3 linked regions of the Homo sapiens genome follow. The protein of the gene in region 1 purifies or fractionates together with the protein of each later gene. This does not show direct contact. Each region holds a gene or a part of one and is shown on either strand. Other genes may lie near its edges.

Evidence for each region.
Region 2: the proteins of ADCY7 (region 1) and MME fractionate together in Homo sapiens (co-fractionation; one large-scale study listed by BioGRID). This does not show direct contact.
Region 3: the proteins of ADCY7 (region 1) and AMIGO2 fractionate together in Homo sapiens (co-fractionation; one large-scale study listed by BioGRID). This does not show direct contact.

Annotation. Positions count from the first base shown.
Region 1 is NC_000016.10:50,272,904-50,276,551, reverse strand, and holds part of ADCY7 (adenylate cyclase type 7), read right to left. Parts: intron 2,422-3,648; exon of another isoform or gene 2,354-2,421; intron 1-2,353. UniProt on the Homo sapiens protein: Catalyzes the formation of cAMP in response to activation of G protein-coupled receptors.
Region 2 is NC_000003.12:155,083,273-155,086,920, reverse strand, and holds part of MME (neprilysin), read right to left. Parts: exon of another isoform or gene 2,879-3,648; intron 2,764-2,878; 5' UTR 2,754-2,763; coding exon 2,594-2,753; intron 1,863-2,593; coding exon 1,827-1,862; intron 1-1,826. UniProt on the Homo sapiens protein: Thermolysin-like specificity, but is almost confined on acting on polypeptides of up to 30 amino acids. Biologically important in the destruction of opioid peptides such as Met- and Leu-enkephalins by cleavage of a Gly-Phe bond.
Region 3 is NC_000012.12:47,077,751-47,081,498, forward strand, and holds the start of AMIGO2 (amphoterin-induced protein 2 precursor), read right to left. Parts: upstream 2,210-3,748; 5' UTR 1,712-2,209; exon of another isoform or gene 1,499-1,711; 5' UTR 1,392-1,498; intron 1,316-1,391; 5' UTR 1,253-1,315; coding exon 1-1,252. UniProt on the Homo sapiens protein: Required for depolarization-dependent survival of cultured cerebellar granule neurons. May mediate homophilic as well as heterophilic cell-cell interaction with AMIGO1 or AMIGO3. May contribute to signal transduction through its intracellular domain.

The sequences.
Region 1 (3,648 bases):
GCCTCAGTTTCCTCATTTTAACAAAAGGAGAATAACAGTCCTACCCCACAGGATTTTGAAAGGATTCAGTTGGGGGTGATGCAAGCAGTGTACTGAGCCACCCCTGGCGCAAAATGCCCCAGTCTAGATGGCATGCATCACCAAGATGTCAGAAAGGGCCATGGGGTGCAGAAGTGAGAGGGCCCGGCACCTGTCCCCACCCCTCAACCCTGCCATGAGCCAGCAGCACTGGGGGTGAGGAGGCCCGGCCCCTACTCTGGTCTGTGAGTGCCCAGCCTCTGGGAGGTAGAGAGAACATTGGTCAGCAACTCAGGCCGGCTTTCCAGGGCCATGAGTGGCAGTGTGGGCTGACCCCTCCATGTAGGGCCTAGTTGGGCCTCAAGGGAGCAGCCGTCCCACCCAACCCAGGTCAGAGGGAGGTGGTGATATTGGTCTGAGCTGGAGGGAGCTCACAGGTGACATCCCAGGCAGAGTCGGGTCCTCGGCCCAAGCCTTCCAGGCTTGCTGGCAGGAGACGGCACAGTACCCAGGCCTCAAGACAAGCTCTGCGACCTCTGAGCCCAGCCGGGAGACAAACTGGGCCAAAAACCACCTGGCTGGCTGTCTCCTCTGAGAACCTGCAGAGAACCATGAATGGGCTGGGCTACCCAAGGGTGGTGGGCGGGGGTGCTCTCGCTCCATTTCTAGCCAGGGCAACTGACTCTGGGACCTTAACCTCCAAGCCCAAAGCCCACCTGCTAGGAAACAGTGGAGCTAGGATTCGAACCCAGGCCTGCCCCTCTCCAAGGCCCAGTGCAGATTAACTCTCTATCTGCATTTCCTGAGGTGCATTCTGCCCAAAAGCAGGAACATGAAAAGCTACATATGCGCAGCCACACACATCCACAGCCATTTCTGGTCACAGGTGGTGCTGAGCTCAACATTCTCCTCTTCCCCATTTAAAGATCCCCCATACACATTAGCAAATTAAAGGCTCTGACAAGTCCTGCAGGAAAGAAGCCTGCTGAATTAAACACAGCTGAACATTTCCCCATCCTTTTGTTAATGAGACTCTTTTTGCACTGAATCCCTAATGAACCTCCTTTGGGAAATGCTGACTTTGGAGTCTCTGAGACCCACCTAGGAACTCCTCCCCTAAGAAGGCTCCCTGGGTAGCTGTGGCCTGTAGAGCCCACTAGCCTCCCCTTAATTGACAGCCTATGAAGCTCTTTAATGCTGGGGGCCCCACTTACCCACCTCCACCTGACCCCAGGTTGGGCTAGCTGCGCACAAGAAGGTTGCAGGTGCTGGCGGGACCAGCCCATGCACCTGCCTGTGGGCCAGGACACCTACCCTGAGCTTAGCCTCCCAGGTGGAGGTGAGAGGAGAGGCCTGAGTGAAAGACCAGGGCTCTCAGGTGCTCACGGTCTCAACAGCACCCTCCCTAGGCAGTTTTCAGCTGGGAAGCACCTTGCCCTGGGGAAAAGCAAGCAGGAAAACAGCTCCAAGTGCCAACCCGGCAAAGGGCTCCTGTCGAATTTCCTGCCTCTCCCATGGAATGCAGAGGAGTGGCCCACCTGCCTCAGTTTCCCCATCTGCCACAGTGCAGGGAATAGAGCCCTGGGCTGAATGTCAGGTGATGTAAGGTACAGTCCCAGCTCTCCCTGTCACCAGCTGTGTGACTCGGGCAATTCTTCACCCTCTCTGGGCCTGACTCCTCCAGGGCAGGAAAGGCCTCCAGGGTCTCTGAGGGCCCTTCCCACTCAGACCAGCAGAGAAGCCAGTCACAGAGAGGTCAGTGGGAGAGGCCTCTCCCACCCAGAGCTCAGCGTGCCACCCATGGAGCTCAGTGAGGCGTCACTGCCTAGCCTGGCCTCCTGTCCCAACAGCAAGCCTGAAGCCACCACCTGGCCCGGAGGCCCCCAGTTTGGCCTCCATGACACCAGCTCGCAAAGTGCCCAGCCCCAAACCAAGGCGCTAAGACCCTCACTTCCCCGAGGCTTCCTGAGAACCCGATCCAGGCCTAGGGGGCACGAGAGACACAGAGGGGACTGCCTCGTGAAACCGCGCCAAGAGCCCGGAAGAGCCCTTCTGCAGGGGAAGCAGCCCCACCCAGCCTCCCCCACCAACCACAGCCCCAGCTTCCGGACCTGCACCCACACAGAAGAGCCCTCGCCATGGCTGTCCCTGGAGCCCAAGACCCCATTCCCGGTCACTCACTCCTTCCTTCCACAAACCCTGCCCTTACGGAGCTATTGGGCACAGGAGGTCACTGTGATGGAGTCTCACGCCACAGGAGCCCCGTGGCCCCCGAAACGAGGCCTCCCACACCTACCCAGGACCCCCCAAAACACCAAGCCCGATCTCTGCTCACCCCTTGGCCAAAAAACGCCTCTAGAGCTTCCCTGGCCTCCTCTGTGGCTGCGTGATTTGGCTGATTTCGGTTCCCCAAACAAGCCCCACCCTTTCATCTCCAGCTCCGGCAATCTAAAAACACGCCCACCTCCTCACCTCCAAATGCCTTCTGCCTGGCGAACTCCTGCCCGCCCTTCAGGGCCAACCTGAGCTGCCACCTCTTCCAGGAAGGCTGCCTGGTCCCCTCCCAGTCTGGCCTTGTTCCTTAGCTTCCCCAGGGCCTGCACCTCCCACAGAAGCACAGGCTACCCTGACCTGTCACTACCTGGCTGCACGTCCAGCCATGCACTACCCAGCTCCCAGGATCTAACCCTGCCTGGTACACAGGGACATCAAACCCCATACTCCACAGACTGGGGGGTACAGCCAGCACTGAACTGGCAGCTAAGGACTGGGCCCCAACCCTGGAATCCCCAGTCCCAACTGCATGAGCTCTGGCAGGTGACCTGCCTCTCAGGACTCAGTTTCTCACCTGAGCAATGGGGATGAAACCCTTCTCTTCGCTCCATGGCCTATTCTAGCAGTGACGTGACCTCATAGCTATAAAACCTCATAAACCCCCATTGCACATGGAAAGGGGCCCATCCTGCCACCAGGAAAGAGGCCACATGTTGGTGCCACCAGACCCCCATCTGCCAAGTGCCACTGAGCTCCTGCCTGCAGCAGGTGCAGGCACTGCTGCTGCTACAACACACAGGACAGGCATGGGTCCCCTGAGGAGCTCATGCCAGGAGGAGGGCAGATTGTCATAAATGAGCCAAGTGAGGAAAAGAAATGCCAGGGCAGGGCAGAAGGGGAAGGCAGGAAAGCATGGTGGTTGGGAGCACAAGCTCTGAGATCCAACAGCAGGCCGTGAATCTCAGCTCCACCTTGGAGGAGCTGTGTGACCTTGGGCATGTTCCTGAACCTCTCTGGGCCTCAGTTTCCTAACCCACAGAATGGACTGGTAACAATACCAGTTCTCAGGGGCTTCACGTAGATGTGGGCACACAGCAAGTACCATCACCCAGGGCCACCCCAGTCAGCTCCAGACACCAGGGTGAGCAGCCTGAGAAATCGTGACATAAACAGGCACTGGGGACACACTTCAGTACCAGGGTCTCAGCCTCACTTCCTGCCTGCCCCCAAAGGGCAGCTCTGCTCTTGTACCCATGCCCAGGAGAGCTGAGCCTGACAAAGGGATACAGAAGTGCTGGTCCCTGCCCCCAGGGGATGGAGCAGTGTCTCCAGGGAGTCTGGGTATATCAAAAGAGG
Region 2 (3,648 bases), on another chromosome or scaffold:
AGGCAGGAGGATGCCTTGAGCCCAGGAGATCAAGGCTGCAGTAAGCTGTGATCACAATACTGCACTCCAGCCTGGGTGACAGAGCAAGATCCTGCCTCAAATAAATAAATAAATAAAATTAAAAATATCCAGCAGAAAATGGTTAAAATTATTTGGAACAGTTTATTTATTTCTTATAAGACACATAGATGTTAGAAAGGAGGTTTAGAATCTCTTGTTAAAGGACACAAATATTGTGTTCATATCCCAGGTGCTGCCCTCAGCTACCACCTTCCTTTTTCTTGAAGAAAGAAGAAATACTCCCATTTTCACCACACTCCAATTGATGGGATTTATATAGCTTCATACACTTCTCTGTTTTCTGCTCTGACTTATTTTTCTTCTCTTCTAATCATTGATGTTGTTTAGCCCTTGAACCTCTTCTTAAGTTTAGCCCTTGAACCTCTTCTCTTCTTTTGAGAACTCAAATACTTCCAAGGCTTCCACTATCACTCCTAAACTGACAGATCTCAAATCCAAATTCCAGCTTCTTAAACCTCATCTCTACCTTCCTCCTGTCTATTTTCATCTTAGACCAAACACATCCACATCCACCTCATAACCTCTCTATTTCTGTGTGGGCTGCCTCCATTCTCTTTAGTCCCTTGGGTTTTAAAACTTGGCATCATTCTCAATTCATTCATTTTATTTAGCAAGTCAGTTCTACTGAGTCACCCAATTCTCCCTCCCCATTATCTCAATAGTACTCTTCTCTCACCACAGGCCAACCTCTTCAGCTTACACTTGGAGTACAGAAGCAGCCCCCACCTGCCTGCCCTCCTTTTCACTCAATCCAGTCAACCTCACATTCGCAGAATCATCTTTCACCTTTGGCCTGATCACTCCTCTGTTCAAAAATATCTGTTTCTCCTGTATTACAATATCAAGGCTAAACATGGATTTCAAGGTTCTCCATAATGTGTCCTTCTATCAAGCGTACACTTTTACTACTTCTCAATAACATAGTTTCTTTCTTTTGTGTTTGGAATTCCCTCTTCTGCACCGCCACATCTAAATTCTAGCCCTGCTTCAAGGTTCTTCCCAAATTTAAGGCTGGGTGCGGTGGCTCACGCCTGTAATCCCAGCACTTTGTGAGGCCGAGGGGGGCAGATCACCTGAGGGCAGGAGTTCGAAACCAGCCTGATCAATATGGTGAAACCCCGTCTCTACCAAAAATACAGAATTAGCCAGGCGTGGTGGTGGGTACCTGTAGTCCCAGCTACTTGGGAGGCTGAGGCAGGAGAATTGCTAGAACCCGGGAGGCGGAGATTGCAGTCAGCCGAGATCACGCCACTGCACTCCAGCTTGGGCGACAGAGCGAGACTCTGTCTCAAAATATAAAAAATAAAAAAAATAAATAAAATGAAATTTCTTCCCAGATTTTAACTTCTCCACCTAGATTTACATGCCTACATCTCACTCCCTTCTTCTCACCCACCTAGTGAGGTGCACTGAGACATTTAACACAATGATACGAAACTTACCATTTCATATGTGTTCATTTTCTTTCTTCAACTACATGGCAAGCTCCATACAAATAGCGATATAGTTTTCTATTGCCCTGCTATACAGCCCAGGGCTGAAAATAGTAATATATTTTTCAGAGTAAACAAGTTAATTAATCTACTACTTAAATATATTTTTATTTCCATTGATTATAGAGCCAGACACATAAATAATTGATCTACAATGAATAAAAGTGTAAACAAAGCAAATTAAGATTAGCATTTAATTTTAAATATTATACATCAGTTGTATAACTATTACACGTAAAAACCATTTCTTACCTGATTTTATGCAGTCTGATGACTTGCAAATACCATCTAGAAAAAGGAGAGAATATACATAAATATTGGCAACACAAATTTTTAAATTTCTATTTTTCTTTTGTTCTTTTAAAAACTGCCAATTAAATAAGCAATTTCTTAAAGCAAGAACTAAAAACTGAACATTATATATCATTGTCAGTGGTTAGAAAAAATATAAGAAAATAAAATAAGTAAAATCTAAATTTAAAATTTTGATTATGAAGAAAAATGTGTTATTATATCTTCTCTACCAACGAAGCCCCAGGCCTATTAAATTGAAATAATCAGTTGTTTTTGCTTGGTAATCATTTTTTTAACCATTAAACAATCAATCTTTTTTCATCCTTGTTGTAAAAAACTTCCAAGACTCAAATTAAATTTGTTAAATTCCTGTGAAGCCGTTTAGAATTTCAATGACACAACAAAAGTTGACTAATGACTATTACTAAAGCTGGCCATAAAATTGTGTATATTTTAATCAAATAAAACCATACTTTAGATTCCTCATAAGTAAGCGTGAGCGCACTAAATATACTTGCAATTAATAACTTAGCTCAAACATAAAAGGCACCGTACTTCAAAGTTAATTATTTTGACATATTGATGTTACATTTTATAAATGAATCTCTTTGTCAGTCTTTAAGTGCCTCTATCCTTAACACATTCGTTGGATAGATGGTAAAAGCATGGAGGAAGATTTCCTTCTCTTTTGCACTTATGGATGCACAGGTGTGGGAGTAACTCACCATCGTAGGTTGCATAGAGTGCGATCATTGTCACAGCTATGATGGTGAGGAGCAGGACAAGGACCGAGAGGCTGATCTCCAGTGGAGTCCATCGCTGTTTCTTCTTTGGCTTTGGAGTGTTGATATCAGTTATATCCATCTGACTTTCTGACTTGCCCATCACCTAAAATCTGCAAAAAATGAAAATACTAATAATGAAAAACAAATAAATAAAAAAGAAAATGTCCAAATGCTTAATGTGGCTGGATAAAAGTAAAAGGCTCAGTTATTTTAAAATAGAAATACATTTTTGCTGTTGAGAAGTCAAAATTTTGTTGCTGAATGCAAAGTATATAGAGCCAAATGAATTTGACAGGTCTCAGTCACAACCTTTTGTTTTTTGTTGCTGTTGTTTTGTTTTGTTTTGCTTTGGTATATCACTGAAAATCTCAGCAAAATTAGACAGTAAGACTTGGTTAAATACTCAAGTAGGATTAATTCAGCAGTTTATAAGCAAATAATTGCTGTACCATCATTAAGAAAGTTTTAAACTCACCCTTTTGAACTCTGGACTAACATCAATGGTTAATTTTATATCTTGCTCCAGTGGCTTCCTTTATAAGCTCAAAAACCAGTGACTAATACCTTGAGGTTTTGACTAAGCAATAATTTGAAATATTAATATAGATAAACAGCAAAACGAATGAACACATGAAGTAGTTTATTTTAGTCATAAAAACAACCTTTATTTTTACAGTTCAAAATTACTACTACTACTGATACCAGTATCTATTAACTGGTTAGACAACATTCTGAAAATGGTCACTCACTGTACCAAAAGATACCTGAATATCCAACCTAACCACGCCCAATCCCATTTAAGAGGGGAGTAAGGGGGATAAGTAAACAAAATAGTACAAAAAGTTACCAAGTTGATACTTGTAGTCCTGTATAAAGCAGGGTATGCAAAAACATACCTGTATTCCTAAAATCTTTCACCTCAACTGGAGATGTGTTAAAAACTTTAAACCAAAAAGTGGACACTGCCACAGAATAGAATAAAGAATTAGGAAACT
Region 3 (3,748 bases), on another chromosome or scaffold:
AGAGGTACAAAAGTACCAAAACGATACTGGCCACGCAAGCAGCAAGAGTGGTAAAAGCTGTGTTAAATGCCTCATGAGCATGGGATCTGCTTACAGTGAAATTGCTCACATTTATTGTGACGTCCACAGTTTCATTTAACAGGCGTTGCTTATTCATTGCGATACAAGAATACACTCCAGCATCCTCAAAACGAGGGCTTTCTATAACCAGACTTCCATTGTGAAACACGTAAAAGTTTTCCATCTCTTTATCCGGCTCTAGCAGTCTGTTATCTGGACCCACCCAGATGAAATCCGTATTTGCATTACCTGTCTTGCTGTCACAGTGGACCATCAGTCTTTCCCCGACCTGAGCCTCATGAATAAAGCCAAGCGCACGAAAGGAACCATTGATGATGCTGTCAGAGCAATTCATAAAGCTATCCTGGAGCAGAAGTACCTGACGCGAGTGCCTGGAGTCAGACCACAGGCGACAGGTGTAATCGTTCTTAAAATCCATCACTGAGCTAAAGTGCCTACGATACCAAAAGACCAGCAAGGAGTACAGGGAACAGTCACAGACAAATGGGTTTCCATGAAGGTAGATGCCTCTCAGCTGTTTTCCTGGCACTAAATTTATGTGGTGCATTGGCATGGAAGGAATTCGGTTATAAGAAACATCTAAAAACATCAGTTCTGCCAGCTTGAACCTTCCAACATACAAATCCATCGGAAACTGTGTGAGAAAATTTCCACTTAAGTAGAGTTTCTGCAACTGGGAGAGCCCTCCAAACGCTGAAGGATCGAGATAGGATATGTGATTGTTGTAAAGCAGAAGCACTTCCAGAACCTTCAACTCTTGGAATACAGCATTTTTCACCGTCTTCAGCTTATTGGACGATAAGTCAAGACACTTCAAATTTGGAGTTGTGGAAAAACTGCCCGTGGAAATGCTGGTGATGTTGTTATGACGAAGAATTAGGGTGTTCAGCTTTGCAAACGATACTGGAATCCACTCAGAATCCAGAAGCCCAATTCTGTTATAACTCAGGTCCAGTCTCTTAATCAGTCTGAAAAGGTTCCCAGGCACCTTGGACAGGTTTTTGTTGGTGCAGCTGACGATGTCAGTGGCACAGATGCAAGCGGTGGGGCACACCCCAGAGGCACCAGGGCCCACAGTCACTGTGATCATCAGCAAACACAGCAGCTCCCTGCAGCCCGGTCTGACGACGGCTCCAAGCAGGGTGGGCAGAGTGTGTACACGTAACGACATTATGGTCGCCTCTGAGTCTCTTCCCGGTGTCTTTTCCACCGGCTCAGCCTCCCACCAGTGAACCTGGCAAACAATTAATAATTCAGAGGGAGTAAAAAGCAGAAACTGACTACCACTAGTTAACCCATAAGAGCCATACCTTACTTTCTTTCCAATAACTTTTGAAATGGGTTTTATTTCACAATAGGGAGCTCTGTGTTGCCTCTTCACTGTTAAATGTATTTTTTCCTCTTTCCTGGGTTAGTCCTGCTTATAAAAATGTACAGTCACATTCTCTCCATACAACCCACCGTCTCACCCACCATCAGAAACTCAATTTTTTCCTAAGGTGCATCCTGCGTTGTTGTTGTTGTTGTTGTTGTTTTAAACTCCCTCCAACAGACACAACTATACGCAAACGTACGCTACAAACAATTAAACGGAAATACTTAGCAACCACCCATCCAGGAAAAAACTCACGGTGCTGGGGAGCCTCGTGGGCTCCGGGGAGGCTGCCTACGCAGTGCCTTCCGAAGGTCTGCGCGTCCGTCTGTCCGTGTCTGTCACTCTTGCACCTTCCGACTTCCTTTCCCTCCGGCTCCCGGCGGGCGGCACCCTCTAGCCGGCTCTCAACTTTGAGGAGTTTCAAGCAGCCGCGGCGGCAGCAGCAGCCCTGGACGCAGCAGCCAAGCTCTTCGCTGGCTCCCGGGGGCTCTCCCGGGTTCCTCTCATTGCAGGCTGAAGGTACCGCCTCGGCGCTCTGGCCGCCGTGTGCCCGCGCGCGGGGCGCCCCGCTCCCAGAGCCGGGGCCGCGGGAGGGGGCGCAGGCAGCCGGGCGGCAGCGGGCGGCCCCGCCTCTCCGCACTCGGGAGGCTGCAGGACCCGGGGTTCCCGCGCGCCCGGGGCCGGGAGACGGGCTGGGGCGCCGGTCCCACCCCTGCGCGTCCTGCCTCCTGCGGGCAGCAGCTCGGAGCCTGCGGGAGGGAGCAGGCTGGGCGCGTGGTGGGGGGCGCGCGATGCGGAGGGGGCGGCGGCGCAGCCAATCCGAGAGGCGGCCGGCGCCCCCTCATACCGCCCCGCGGCCTCGCCGCCTCCTCCCGCTTTCCTCCTCCAGCTCCCACCCGGACCTCTAGAACGGCCGCGCAGAGCGGGGAGGGGGCAGGGGTCCACACCAGAGGCCCAGACTCTGGTCCTTGAGTCAAGATGCCCAACCCACTCGCCTACCAATTACGTCCCTTCGTCCAGCTCCAAGCCGGGCGGTAATGGGGTCCAGGAAGGCTAAAGGGGACACGCCCAGCCACCGAGGGAGGGGTCTCACCCTTGGAGACCCACTTCGCGGCGGCCGCACAGGTCACGTCTCTCTCCCCACCCAGGCCAAGGAATCCCCGGACCTCTTAGAGCTTTGCTTTGGGGCAAGGGCCAAGGAGGCTTTGCCTGCGCCAAGTGCAGTTGACTGTCTGGGTTTACAAAATAAACCCAGAAGCAGCCTGACGTCTCCGCTCGTTTCTAGGGAGGAGGTCGCGGGGAGGGAAGTCGGGAACGTTTCCTCTCCACAGGGATATCTGCTGGGAGGAAGTAACCGGGAAATCGCCACGGGGACACCCCTCACCTCCCTGGGAAAGTTCTATCCCTTTCCTGACTCAGGAGGCGGCAACAGGGATGGTGTCCAATTCAAGAAGGAGGAGGGCAGGAAAGAAGGCTTGGAGCCGACCTTCCGGCTGGAATGCAAAGATAAGAGTATTAACCCAAATAATAATAATAATCCCAGAGCAGACCTTTTTTTCTTTTTTCTCTCTTCTCCTTCCCCTCTTCTCTCTCCCTCTCTCTCTCCCTCTCTCTCCTTTCTCTTTCGTTCTCTCTCTCTCATTTCCTCTGTCTCTGTCCCCGCCACCTCCCCGTCTTTTGCAAGCGTGCTCGTGGCGCGTGCGGGACAGGGAAGTAAGGGGCGTGTGCGCGGAGGCTCTTCATCCCTTCCGGAGATGCCGCGGCCGACCAGCGCGCTTTGGTTCAGCAAGCACAGAAGGTGCAAGCCGAACAAGGCCATTCAGAAATGAGGTGGAGACTATGAGGCTGATGAGCTCTACGATTAAAAATCCATTTTTGTTTAATTCCAAGATAAGTTTTAACGATGGGATTTGAGTGAGTCAGATCGCCCATTTGGCCATTATATCCGGATTAAAAGAAATAAATTACTGCCTTGACAAAAGATGCCAACCACAGTGGAATGAAAAGCAACCAAATTGAGGAAACAGTTGGGGCAGGATAGATAACTTGTAATATTACTTAAAAATAAAAATGATGAGGACAACCAACTCTTCCTCCCCTCCCCCGCGCACCTTTTCACTTGAGCAATCTTGAATTTAGTGAAAGTTGTTTCCTACATGGTCCGTGAGTCATTGCTGTGGTCAGGCAGATTTGTTAGACCAACACCTAATTTAAATAGAATTGTTTGTGGAATAAAGCCGGGCTAGCACTAATAAATCTAGGCATTTTCAGATGAGGACAACTTGATTCAGA